Homo sapiens: one gene and its partners. The protein of the gene in region 2 interacts with the protein of the main gene of each other region in a pairwise test. Each region holds a gene or a part of one and is shown on either strand. Other genes may lie near its edges.

Region 1 (3,752 bases), on a different chromosome or scaffold from region 2:
TTGTATGAGATCAAATATATAAACTGGAAGGCCAACAATTCTTGACAAGAGTGTCATGATACATGTTCATGACACAAGAAGTCGTTCCTGACCACTCATTAGTAATTTTGAAACCAAAGCCAAACAAGCCCATGTCTTTCTATACTCTAAGCCGCCATGCTAAGATTGTATTTTTTTTTAAATGTCTAGTTACAGTTTCTTGTGATAACTGAAGGAGAGAAACTGTAATTTAGGACACAATCTTTCCAACCCCATGATGTTGAAACAGGCCTACTGTGCTGTTAAGGAGAGACACTTTAGAGCTGCGAAGGGAAATGTATTGGTTTCCTGACTTCTAACAGTGAAAATTTAAAGGAAGTCAGATCAGAGAAGCAAAGCGTTCTGTGGGAGCAGGGAGAAATCTGAACCAAAGGAAGACTATTTCTCTTCTCTTTCTCAGAGATAATTCTCTGTTTTATTTTGCTTGTGAAAATTTAGTGAACAGACCTATTACAGATGGAAAATAAATGGATAGAGTTCAAGCCTCCAACCCCAGGGTGTCCATATATGGCCAGGAACATCCCACCAGAAAATGATGGCTAGAGGTAATGATTAAAATAACACCTTATGTTTGGGTATCCTTGATCTAAGTGATACATTTTCACGTATCTTATTTCAGTCCTCATAACAAGCTGTGAACTAGGCCAGTGGTTCTCAGACTTAGATTTCACAGACTAGTATAATAATAACAAACTAGTGTGACCAACATAAGGATACCAACTCCTTATTTTGCCAAACAAGGACATAAAAATAAGAGTTATTGGCTGGGCGTGGTGACTCATGCCTGTAATCCCAGCACTATGGGAGGCCGAGGTGGGAGGATCACTTGAGGTCAGGAGTTCAAGATCAGCCTGGCCAACAGGGTGAAACCCTATCTCTACTAAAAATACAAAAATTAGCTGGGCACGGTGGTGGGGCACCTGTAATCCCAGCTACTTGGGAGGCTGGGGCAGGAGAATTGCTTGAGCCCAGGAGGTGGAGGCTGCAGTGAGCTGAGATCACACCACTGCACTCCAGCCTGGGCAACACAGCGAGACTCTGTCTCAAAAAAAAAAAAAAAGAGTTATTAAATTACTAACTACAACTACAGTCTATTTTCATCATCATTTCATAAAAGGGGATTTTAACACCACAAAACTGGAGAGGACATAACTTCAGAATAAAAGACAAGCCTTTAAATTGAACACACTTAACTTGGTGAAACATTTACTACATTGTTAACTTTATCATTGTCACATTTTGGTCACAGGTTGTGGAAACCTTCATCTTGAGCTAGAACTGACAGATCCCCAGATGGATGTCTGAGAACCAGTGAACTTGGCATTATCAATCCCCATTACCAGACAAAAAGACAGGCTGGGAGGTGAAATGAGTCTCCAAGATGGGGGCTTAGCTAGTGAGGGCAGAGCTAGGCTGTGAGCCCTGGTCTTCTAGATCTAAGCCCATTACAGCATAGCCCTCCTCTGGTTTTGAAGAGGCAGAATAACACATATACATCCATTAATAAGTTATCCAAAGCGTTCAATGGCCACTTACCACTCTGGTTGGTAACCAGGTGGAAAGTGCCTCTTTTCTAGTTTCTAGAACAGCCACTAGCCAGCAGTTCTCATAGATAGACAACAGAACCTGCTCCTAGGAGGAATTTTATGGTCCTTAGCCAGATCCCTTCCTGTGCTCCATTAAATGCTCCAACATGGAAAATGCTGAGCACGAAGCCTCCGCTACCCCCACAGCATTCAGTAATTATGACTATTATTTCTATTGTAGAATTTGAGTGAAAAGGGCACAAAACTTTTTCATAAATATCAAATACTTGGTTTAGGTCCCTGTGGATTCCTGTAGACATGAAAAGAGCTTAAGAAGTCAAATTGTAGTTTGAGTTTGGACATCTCTGTTTCCCCATCCTGCTGATTATTCCAGCATTCCTCTCCCTTCCAAACCTCTGCCAGTTCTTAGGTCAACTTGAAGAGGGTTTTCAGAGTTGGAGTGTAAGTCTAGCCATCCCAGCCCAAGACTGAATCTTATTGGCAACCTTTTTCCTTTTGGAGAAGCCTATATATGGCCCTTAGATTAGGCTGAGAAAGAACAATTGGGGGGAAGGTTACAAACTAATATCACCCAAGGAAAACTTGCCAATACAAGGAGTGTCCCACGGAGAAATATGTGCTCTTTCTCTCTTGGCGCTCAGCAGCAAAATGGCAACTTTCGTCTCTTTCCTTTGCTGCCTAAAAGCCCACCTCCCACTTCTCTACCCCGCCCCTACTGTGCTGCACGACTGAGCAGATATGACTGGATTGGCCCTGATGGGTAGGTTTTACTGTCCAGCAATATTTTAAGCTCCCAGCCAGACAGCTTTTATGAAGGGAGGGATGTTTGGGAAACAATGGGAGTGAGAGAATGGGAGAGCTGTGTTGGGCACTGAGGGGAGGAGGATGGGGAAAGCTGATGTGTGAAAGCTTAGCTGGGGCTTCTGTGCCTCCCAAAGTTTCTTTTAGCAGCAGACTGGGCCTGTACATCAGTAAACCTTTGGCGTCTCTCCAGAGCGCATGAGCCTAGGGGCATTTTCCCAAGGCCTTATCATCAGCTGGGAGAATCTTAATGATGTAGGGACAGTAAGTGGTCAGTTGTGTGAATCCCTCTGCCCTGAGTCACACCAAGAGTGGTTGGTCCTTTCCAAAGGACCATATTTCATTTTTTATTGGTGGTTTGCTCTTGTCTCTCAAAGCCTTCAGCAGAATTGTGGATATTAGAGGCTGGGAAGTGTAGTGGCGGAAGGAAGGATGGGGAGCATGTTGCTAATAGATACAAAAGCACAGCTAGATAGGGGGAATGGGTTCTGGTGGTCTGCAGTGCTGTAGGGTGAATATGGTTAACATTAATTAATTAATTATTTTAATTTTTATATTTTTGTGTGTGTGTGAGACAGAGTCTCGCTCTGCCACCCAGGCTGGAGTGCAATGTCACGATCTTAGCTCACTGCAACCTCTGCCTCTCAGGTTCAAGTTATTCTCCTGCCTCAGCCTCCTGAGTAGCTGGGATAACAGACACCCACAACCACGCCCAGCTAATTTTTTTTTTTCTATTTTTAGTAGAGACGGGGTTTCACCATGTTGGCCAGGCTGGCCTCAGACTCCTGACCTCAGGCGATCTGCCCGCCTTGGCCTCCCCAAATGCTGGGATTACAAGCATGAGCGACCATGCCTGGCCGTTAACTATTTTATTGTATAGTCTCAAAAAGCTAGAGGAGAGGATTTTGATTGTTCCCAACAGAAAGAAATGATAAATGTTTGAGATGCTGAATATGCTAATTATCCTGATTTGATCATTACACATTGTATACATGTATTGAAATATCACTGTGTATCACAAATACGTACAATTATTATGTGTCAACTAAACATAAAAGGAAAGAGCTTTCTAAAAAGATCAAAACAATAAAAAAGAAACACAAACAAACCTTCAGCAGGGTGGTCTCCCTCTTTGAAAGGAGCCTTAACACTCCAAAGAATTCTGGTGCCATTTGTCAAAGTAATAGCCTTTCTCACCACGTTTCACTTATAATTACATATACTTTTGAGTAGCGGAAGTTCAATCAATGTCAGCTAACATTTTTAGACTTTAGTGCCTTCATCTGTTAAATGGGGATATGATGGTTTTGCTCACCAGGAGGCTCTTGGATTAAATTCTAATGTGGCTTAATGAGGAATGATGCT
Region 2 (3,652 bases):
GAGAAAGGCTGTCTCCTTGACTTAAAGGTTACCTAAGTGACCCCTTGAGGTAGGTTCCACTCTGAGCCAGCTGGGGAATGTTGATTTGAGGTTACAGCACTCTTGATCTGATAATAGGGTCTAAATTTGCTCTAGAGACTTTGTAGTGCTTAAATCTTGGGGATAGCTGAGCTGAACCAGATGCAAGCTCTGCCCTCAGGGTGAGAAGTTTCTGCACAATTAACTGGAATCCAAAACACGTGAAAAAGGAGCTTCACCAGTGAGGGTGAAGTGGGTATGCTGTTTGTCTTAATTTATGTGTGCTCCCCATTTGGGCTAAATATGGTGTTATTAGGGAGGGATTACTGGTTTATACTGGAAGAAGATTATGTATTTAGGATTTTGGGGCCTTCTTAGGATTCAGTATCTGTCAAACGTTATAGAGAGGGAGATGAAGTAGTGTCAACGTTTGGTACAAAAAATAATTTACTGAAGGCAGTAGGCATTTCATCTCCAGTTACTGGTTTGGTTTTGAGGCAGCCCCCTGGAGGAGATGGATTCAGTATTAGCTAATCCAGGGATTTGGGTCCAAGTTAAGGGAGAGGCGGGGACATCTAGGGTGTCCACCTGGGAAGATCAAAGCTTGGTCCTAGTTGAATGAAACAATTCCTTGGATGGTTCCGAAACTGAACTGACCTACCTCCTGGGAGTGGCAGGGAAAGCATCAAGCTTTTGCGCATTTACTTCATCAAATCCTTTACCATATCAGATTATCACTTAGTGGCTATTAGGCTGTCTCAAAATGTCCATGGCCCTGTGGGACAAGAGAGATAGTATAAATGTGCTAGAAGAAAGGTATGCCATTTAAACAAAAGTACAGACGGGCCCCAATTTATGATGATTGGACTTAATGATTTTTTACTTTATAATGATGCAAAAGTGCTACCTGTTTGCTAGAAACTGTACTTCAGGCCAGGCATGGTGGCTCATGCCTGTAATCCCAGCACTTTGGGAGGCCGAGGTGGGCAGATCACTTGAGGTCAGGAGTTTGAGACCAGCCTGGCCAACATGGCAAAACCCTGTATCTACTTAAAATACAAAAATTAGCTGGGCATGGTGGCACACACCTGTAATCCCAGCTACTTGGGAGGCTGAGGCATGATAATCACTTGAACCCAGGAGGCAGAGGTTGCAGTGAGCTGAGATCGTGCCACTGCACTCCAGCCTGGGCAACAGAGCGAGACTCTGTCTCAAAAAAAAAAACCCAGCACATTTAGAATTTCCATCTTTTCCCAGACTAGGGATATCTGGTATGATATTTTCACATGAGATATTTAACACTTTATTATAAAGTAGGCTTTGCGTTAGATAGTTTTGCCCAACTTCAGACTAATGTAAGCGTTCTGGGCACATTTAAGGTAAGGTAGGCTAGGCTTAAGCTATAATGTTTGGTAGGTTATATGTAGTAAGTGCATAAATTACGATACTTTCAGTTTACAATGGGATTATTGGGATGTAACTTCATTGTAAATCGAGCATCTATACTTTTACCAGTAATGAGATTTTTCAAGTGCCTTTATGTTTCAGTTTATAATTTTCTTTTCTCTCTTTTTTTTTTTTTCTTTTTTGAGACAGAGTCTCACTCTGTCGCCCAGGCTGGAGTGCAGTGGTGCAATCTCGGCTCACTGCAACCTCCGCCTCCTGGGTTCAAGCCATTCTCCTGCCTCAGCCTCCCAAGTAGCTGGGATTATAGGCGCCCACCACCACGCCTGGCTAATTTTTTGTATTTTTAGTAGAGATGGGGTTTCATTGTGTTGGCTGGGCTGGTCTCGAACTCCTGACCTCAAGTGATCCGCCTGCCTCAGCCTCCCAAAGTGCTGGGATTACAGGCTAAAACTAGACTTTTAAAAGAGAATAATCTACTGAAGATATTGTAGTAATGAGTACACCAGTAATAACAATGTTAGTACACCAGTAATAACAATGGTTACCATGTATTGAACTCATTCTATGTACAAAGAGCTATTTTAAGAACTTTATTTGTATTATCTCACCTAATCTGCAACCTTAGGAAATAAGGATTGTTATGTACTAGTATTTTACACATGGTAGGTGAAACTGAAGTACAGTGAGGTTAAGTGCCAGCAGCTTGCTGCATGTCCCACTGCTAAGGAAATAACTAGGATTCAGAAGTAGCAGGCAGTCTTAACCACTATGCAGGGGACATGGTTATACAGTGTATGAACATTACTCAGTAGTAAAAACTAATGAATGGAAAGCTTTCTTGGCCAAAAACACAGAAGAAGAAGAAGAAGAAGAAAAAAAACTACTGACAAATTACTAACAGTTCTTCCCCCTCCTTTTTTTGTTTTTGTTTTTTTGAGACAGAGTCTGGCTCTGTCACCCAGGCTGGAGTGCAGTAGCGCAATCTCGGCTCACTGCAAACTCTGCCTCCTGGGTTCAAACGATTTTCCTTCCCTAGCCTCCTGAGTAGCTGGGATTACAGGCGCCCACCACCACATCTGGCTGATTTTTGTATTTTTTTACTAGAGACTGGGTGTCACCATGTTGGCCAGGTTGGTCTCGATCTCGTGACCTCAGGTGATCCACCCACTTAGGCATCCCAAAGTGCTGGGATTACAGGCATGAGCCACCGTGCCCAGCCCTTTCCCCTCTTTTAAACTATATGGGATTTTTCTTCTAAGTATCAATTTGGTCCCTTCTAGATATGTGGGAACAAGGTTCAGGATGGTTGAATTTATACAACAGGAAGAAAGAACCATGTAATTGACAAACTAATTTTTTTGTTTTAATTTTATAAAACGGTTTTGCTGTGTTGCCCAGGCTGGGGTGCAGTGACACATTTTTGCTCTGTTACCAGGCTGGAGTGAAGCAACATGATGATGGCTCACTGCAGCCTGAAATTCCTGGGCTCAAGCAATTCTCCTTCCTCAGCCTCCCAAGTAGTTGGGACAACAGGCGCACACCACCACACCCAGCTAATTTTTTAATTGTTTGCAGAGATGAGGTTTTGCTGTGTTGCCCAGGTTGGTCTGGAACTCCTGGGCTCAAGCGACCCTCCCACCTTGGCTTCCCAAAGTGCTGGGCTCACAGGTGTGAGACATTGTGCATGGCCTTTTTCCTTTTTTGTTTTTTGGAAGTGAACATAACCTTGAGACTTTATTGTCTTCATAATAAAACATAAACTGATATTTAATTAAATGTGCGAACAGTGTTTCTTTGACTTGCTGTTTTAATGTTGCTGTACACACTGAGGCAAAGTCTGTCTTGGCTCCAGCATTGCATAGAACGCATACTAAATCCACGATAGTTTTGTTTTGCATAGCTTTTGGCTACTTCAGCATGTTTCATGTTCACTGTAGCTCCTAGGTGTGTGGGAATAGGACTGAAGAGAATGGTTGTGTTTTTTTTAATTTTTAAATTTTTTTTACACGTAGTCTCGCACTGTCACCCATGGTGGAGGGCAATGGCGTGATCTCAGTTCACTGCAACCTCCGCTTCCCTGGCTCAAGCGATTCTCCTGCCTCAGCCTCCTGAGTAGCTGGGACTATAGGTGCCCGCCATCACGCCCAGCTAATTTTTGTATTTTTAGTAGAGACAGGGTTTCACCATGTTGGCCAGGCTGGTCTCCAACTCCTGACCTCATGATCTG
Region 3 (3,652 bases), on a different chromosome or scaffold from region 2:
CCGGCCTGCGCGTGCCTGTGAGCATCTGTCGGCCACTCTGGGACTGAGCGCACTGCCTTGCATGAGGGGCTCTCAGGCAGCTACGGCCTATGCTTTGGGGCCTCTCAGATCCAGATCCAGACGCTGCTCCTCCCTCGCAGCACGGCTGAGTCCTAGCAAAGCCAAATGCCAGAGTCTTGAACCGCCTGTGTCTGTGTGGCAGCCCACTCTTGGTGAAAGTGCAGCCTGCCTTCTGAAAAGAAGACCTCGAGGACACCACCTTGAGCCCATGCTGTGAGCCCCCATAGTGTTAATATTAGTGACAAGCAGTGCCATTAAAAACTGAAAGTTCAGGTTCCCACTCTCCTACCCCACAGGCTTTCTCTCTCCTAAGATAAAAATATAGCAATGAATAAGCAACATCGGACGAGAAGCAATTTTCAAAATACCTTTATTTTTTTCTCTTTGGGTGGTCATTCCATCACACTGTTAACAGTGCACCTGCTGTACCATTTCATTTGGATAATTCTGACAATCTCCACTTCTTCATGCGTCTCAGTCAGTCCTCAGTTTCTTCGGCTTCTGTTATTGTCCCTGTTACTAGATTTTTAGAAAAGAAGAATTGTTTTTTCAAATGGAATATTCAGCAGTCCCGAAAAGATTTCATCAGGATCTTTGAACCCATCTACATGGTGTCTGATTGGCAATGATTGATTCAAAAGCCAGTTTTGGGGATGGCCGTATCCTCCTATGTTTCTCATTGCATTCTAGGGGACAGTAAAACACTCTTCCTCCCACATCATCTCTCTACACAGGAGGCTCCCTTAACCAGGCAAACATCTGTCCTGCAGGAAAGCCTCATTTGCACAGACGCAGCCTCAGTTAGGGGCCAGGCATTCCAGATCTGAAATCAAGTGTGGGTTGCCCTCTTACCCTGCCTCCTGATTTTCCTGATGGTCCCTGTAAAGCCAAGTCTATTTGGTAACAATGGGTAAGGCCAGGCCGTTTGTATCCTGTACAAACATCTCTGAAGATAAGGATTACCATTTGAGATGTTTCTTTCTCTAACCTGGCAAGGTGCTGATCTAGGAAAAGCAACCGGCAACCTCCAAGGGCCCCCAAAGCAGGTAAACCAACATATGAGAAACTTTCCTTCCTGGAAACCGAAGCAGGCATAGAGTGATCGTCCACCTCTCCAACCACGACCACCACGTGGCCAGGGCACCACAAAGAGTACCCACAGCAGCCCTGCAGCCTCCCCGCACATCCACGACCACCAGGCGGCCAGGGCACCACAGAGAATACCCACAGCAGCCTGGCAGCCTCCCTGCACAACCAAGACCACCACGTGGCCAGGGTGCCACAGAGAGTACCCATGGCAGCCCTGCAGCCTCCCCACAGGAAGTCACCTGATCAAATGTGCAGTTTCTGCAGGACTCTTGCCCCCTCCCCAGGAGCTTCCCACACTAACAATGAGGGCCCCGCCAGAGGGTGAAATGACAGGGAGGCAAAAGGGGATGGGAAGGGGGAGGACAAGACTCACAGAAGGAAACTCACACTGACAGCCACATCCACCCTGCAAACCTGAACCTCCAATGTTGGGTACATTACAATTTTGAACAAACTGCAACACTGATCACTGAGGTTGAAGGGCCTGTGTAGATGTTGAGCCCCTTCCCAGGGAAGGTCTCCCGAGGGAACAGAGCCACGCCCTTGACCTTAGGCTGAGGATCATTCCAGAAGCTTCTCACCATCATCCTTATCCTCGTCACTCTTCATCGAGGGCCCAGCACTTGGAGGCCCAGGACTCGCAGGCTTCAGCCCTAACTTGCTGCTGGATGAGGCCAACTCCGCCTTTTCGCTGGACTTCTGTGGCAGCGCGACATCCACAGGGATGGCCTTTTCTTTCCTGCTCTCCTGAATGACTCTGATGGGAAGAGGGTTTTATCACAGTCAGGGAAGTTACAGATGGAAAACTCTCCAGTTCCTCCCTCCCACCCACCAGGACATCCCTCTGAAAACACAGGTTCCTGATCATGCATACTTATTTTTTAAGGTAAATGCTTTGATGTAATAGTTCTCATTTTCGTTTCTTTCTCTCTCTCTTTTTTTTTTTTTTTTTTTTGAGACAGTTTTGATCTGTCATCCAGGCTGGAGTGCAATGGCACAAACACGGCTCACTGCAGCCTCCAACTCCCGGGCTCAAGTAATCCTCCCACCTCAGCCTCCCAAAGTGCTGGGAGATTACAAGTATGAGCCACCACATCCAGCCTCATTTTAGTTTCTTGTGCAGGCTCCAAACAGATGGCTGTATGAGGCAGCTAGACTCCCAAAGACAGCTCCGGGCAGGGGGAAGGTGTGTGTTGCACTGCAGGCTACTGCCGGCTCATCTTCATGATTAACACACATAAGACAGCATACAGCACCACTCATGGTAGGAAAATGGCTTTACTCATTCCTGGACAAAGAGACTCAAATAATCTCAGGGGCTTGTATGCACACAGAGTGGGCTCATGGTGAAGGTGGTGGCCGGGGAGTGAGATGCTGGATTCCAGCCCTGCCCTGGGAATAGCCACCTGCTTCCTTGGCCCCCCGGGTCTGCATTTCCTCACCATTAAAATGAGAGGGAGTGGACTCATCTCTGAGACACCTCCAAACCCTGACACCCTGCAATGAGGACGCAGGCCACAGGCCAAGAGATGCAGGCAGCCTTGGGTTCAGGGACTCTGAGACAACTGGGAGCCTGAGTTAGAGCCTCACTGCCCCATCCATCAGCCTCGGGACCCCCTCGATGCTGCGTCAATCATCCCAGTCCGGGGACAGTAAGTTCACTTACATCGTCAGTGGCTTCAAGGGCTGAAAAGGCTGAGCAGAGCTCTTAAGAGTCTTAGGTGCTCACTAAACACGGGTTATGATGTTCATCAACAAGCACAGGTGCTCACTAAACACGGGTTATGATTTTCATCAACAAGCACAGGTGCTCACTAAACACGGGTTATGATTTTCATCAACAAGCACAGGTGCTCACTAAACACGGGTTATGATTTTCATCAACAAGCACAGGTGCTCACTAAACACGGGTTATGATTTTCATCAACAAGCACAGGTGCTCACTAAACACGGGTTATGATTTTCATCAACAAGCACAGGTGCTCACTAAACACGGGTTATGATTTTCATCAACAAGCACAGGTGCTCACTAAACACGGGTTATGATTTTCATCAACAAGCACAGGTGCTCACTAAACACGGGTTATGATTTTCATCAACAAGCACAGGTGCTCACTAAACACGGGTTATGATTTTCATCAACAAGCACAGGTGCTCACTAAACATGGGTTATGATGTTCATCAACAAGCACAGGTGCTCACTAAACACGGGTTATGATGTTCATCAACAAGCACAGGTGCTCACTAAACACGGGTTATGATGTTCATCAACAAGCACAGGTGCTCACTAAACACGGGTTATGATGTTCATCAACAAGCACAGGTGCTCACTAAACACGGGTTATGATTTTCATCAACAAGCACAGGTGCTCACTAAACACGGGTTATGATTTTCATCAACAAGCACAGGTGCTCACTAAACAGGGGTTATGATTTTCATCAACAAGCACAGGTGCTCACTAAACACGGGTTATGATTTTCATCAACAAGCACAGGTGCTCAC

The links.
Region 1: the proteins of TMBIM6 (region 2) and GJA8 interact in binary tests that used the Homo sapiens proteins (3 or more experiments, as listed by UniProt).
Region 3: the proteins of TMBIM6 (region 2) and TEX29 interact in binary tests that used the Homo sapiens proteins (3 or more experiments, as listed by UniProt).

The regions. Positions count from the first base shown.
Region 1 is NC_000001.11:147,901,282-147,905,033, reverse strand, and holds the start of GJA8 (gap junction alpha-8 protein), read right to left. Parts: upstream 2,240-3,752; 5' UTR 2,173-2,239; intron 1-2,172.
Region 2 is NC_000012.12:49,744,494-49,748,145, forward strand, and holds part of TMBIM6 (bax inhibitor 1), read left to right. Parts: exon of another isoform or gene 1-49; intron 50-3,652. UniProt on the Homo sapiens protein: Endoplasmic reticulum (ER)-resident protein that confers cellular protection as an anti-apoptotic protein by limiting multiple stress-inducing pathways surrounding the endoplasmic reticulum and mitochondria.
Region 3 is NC_000013.11:111,341,010-111,344,661, reverse strand, and holds the end of TEX29 (testis-expressed protein 29), read right to left. Parts: intron 1,907-3,652; coding exon 1,731-1,906; intron 580-1,730; coding exon 539-579; 3' UTR 414-538; downstream 1-413.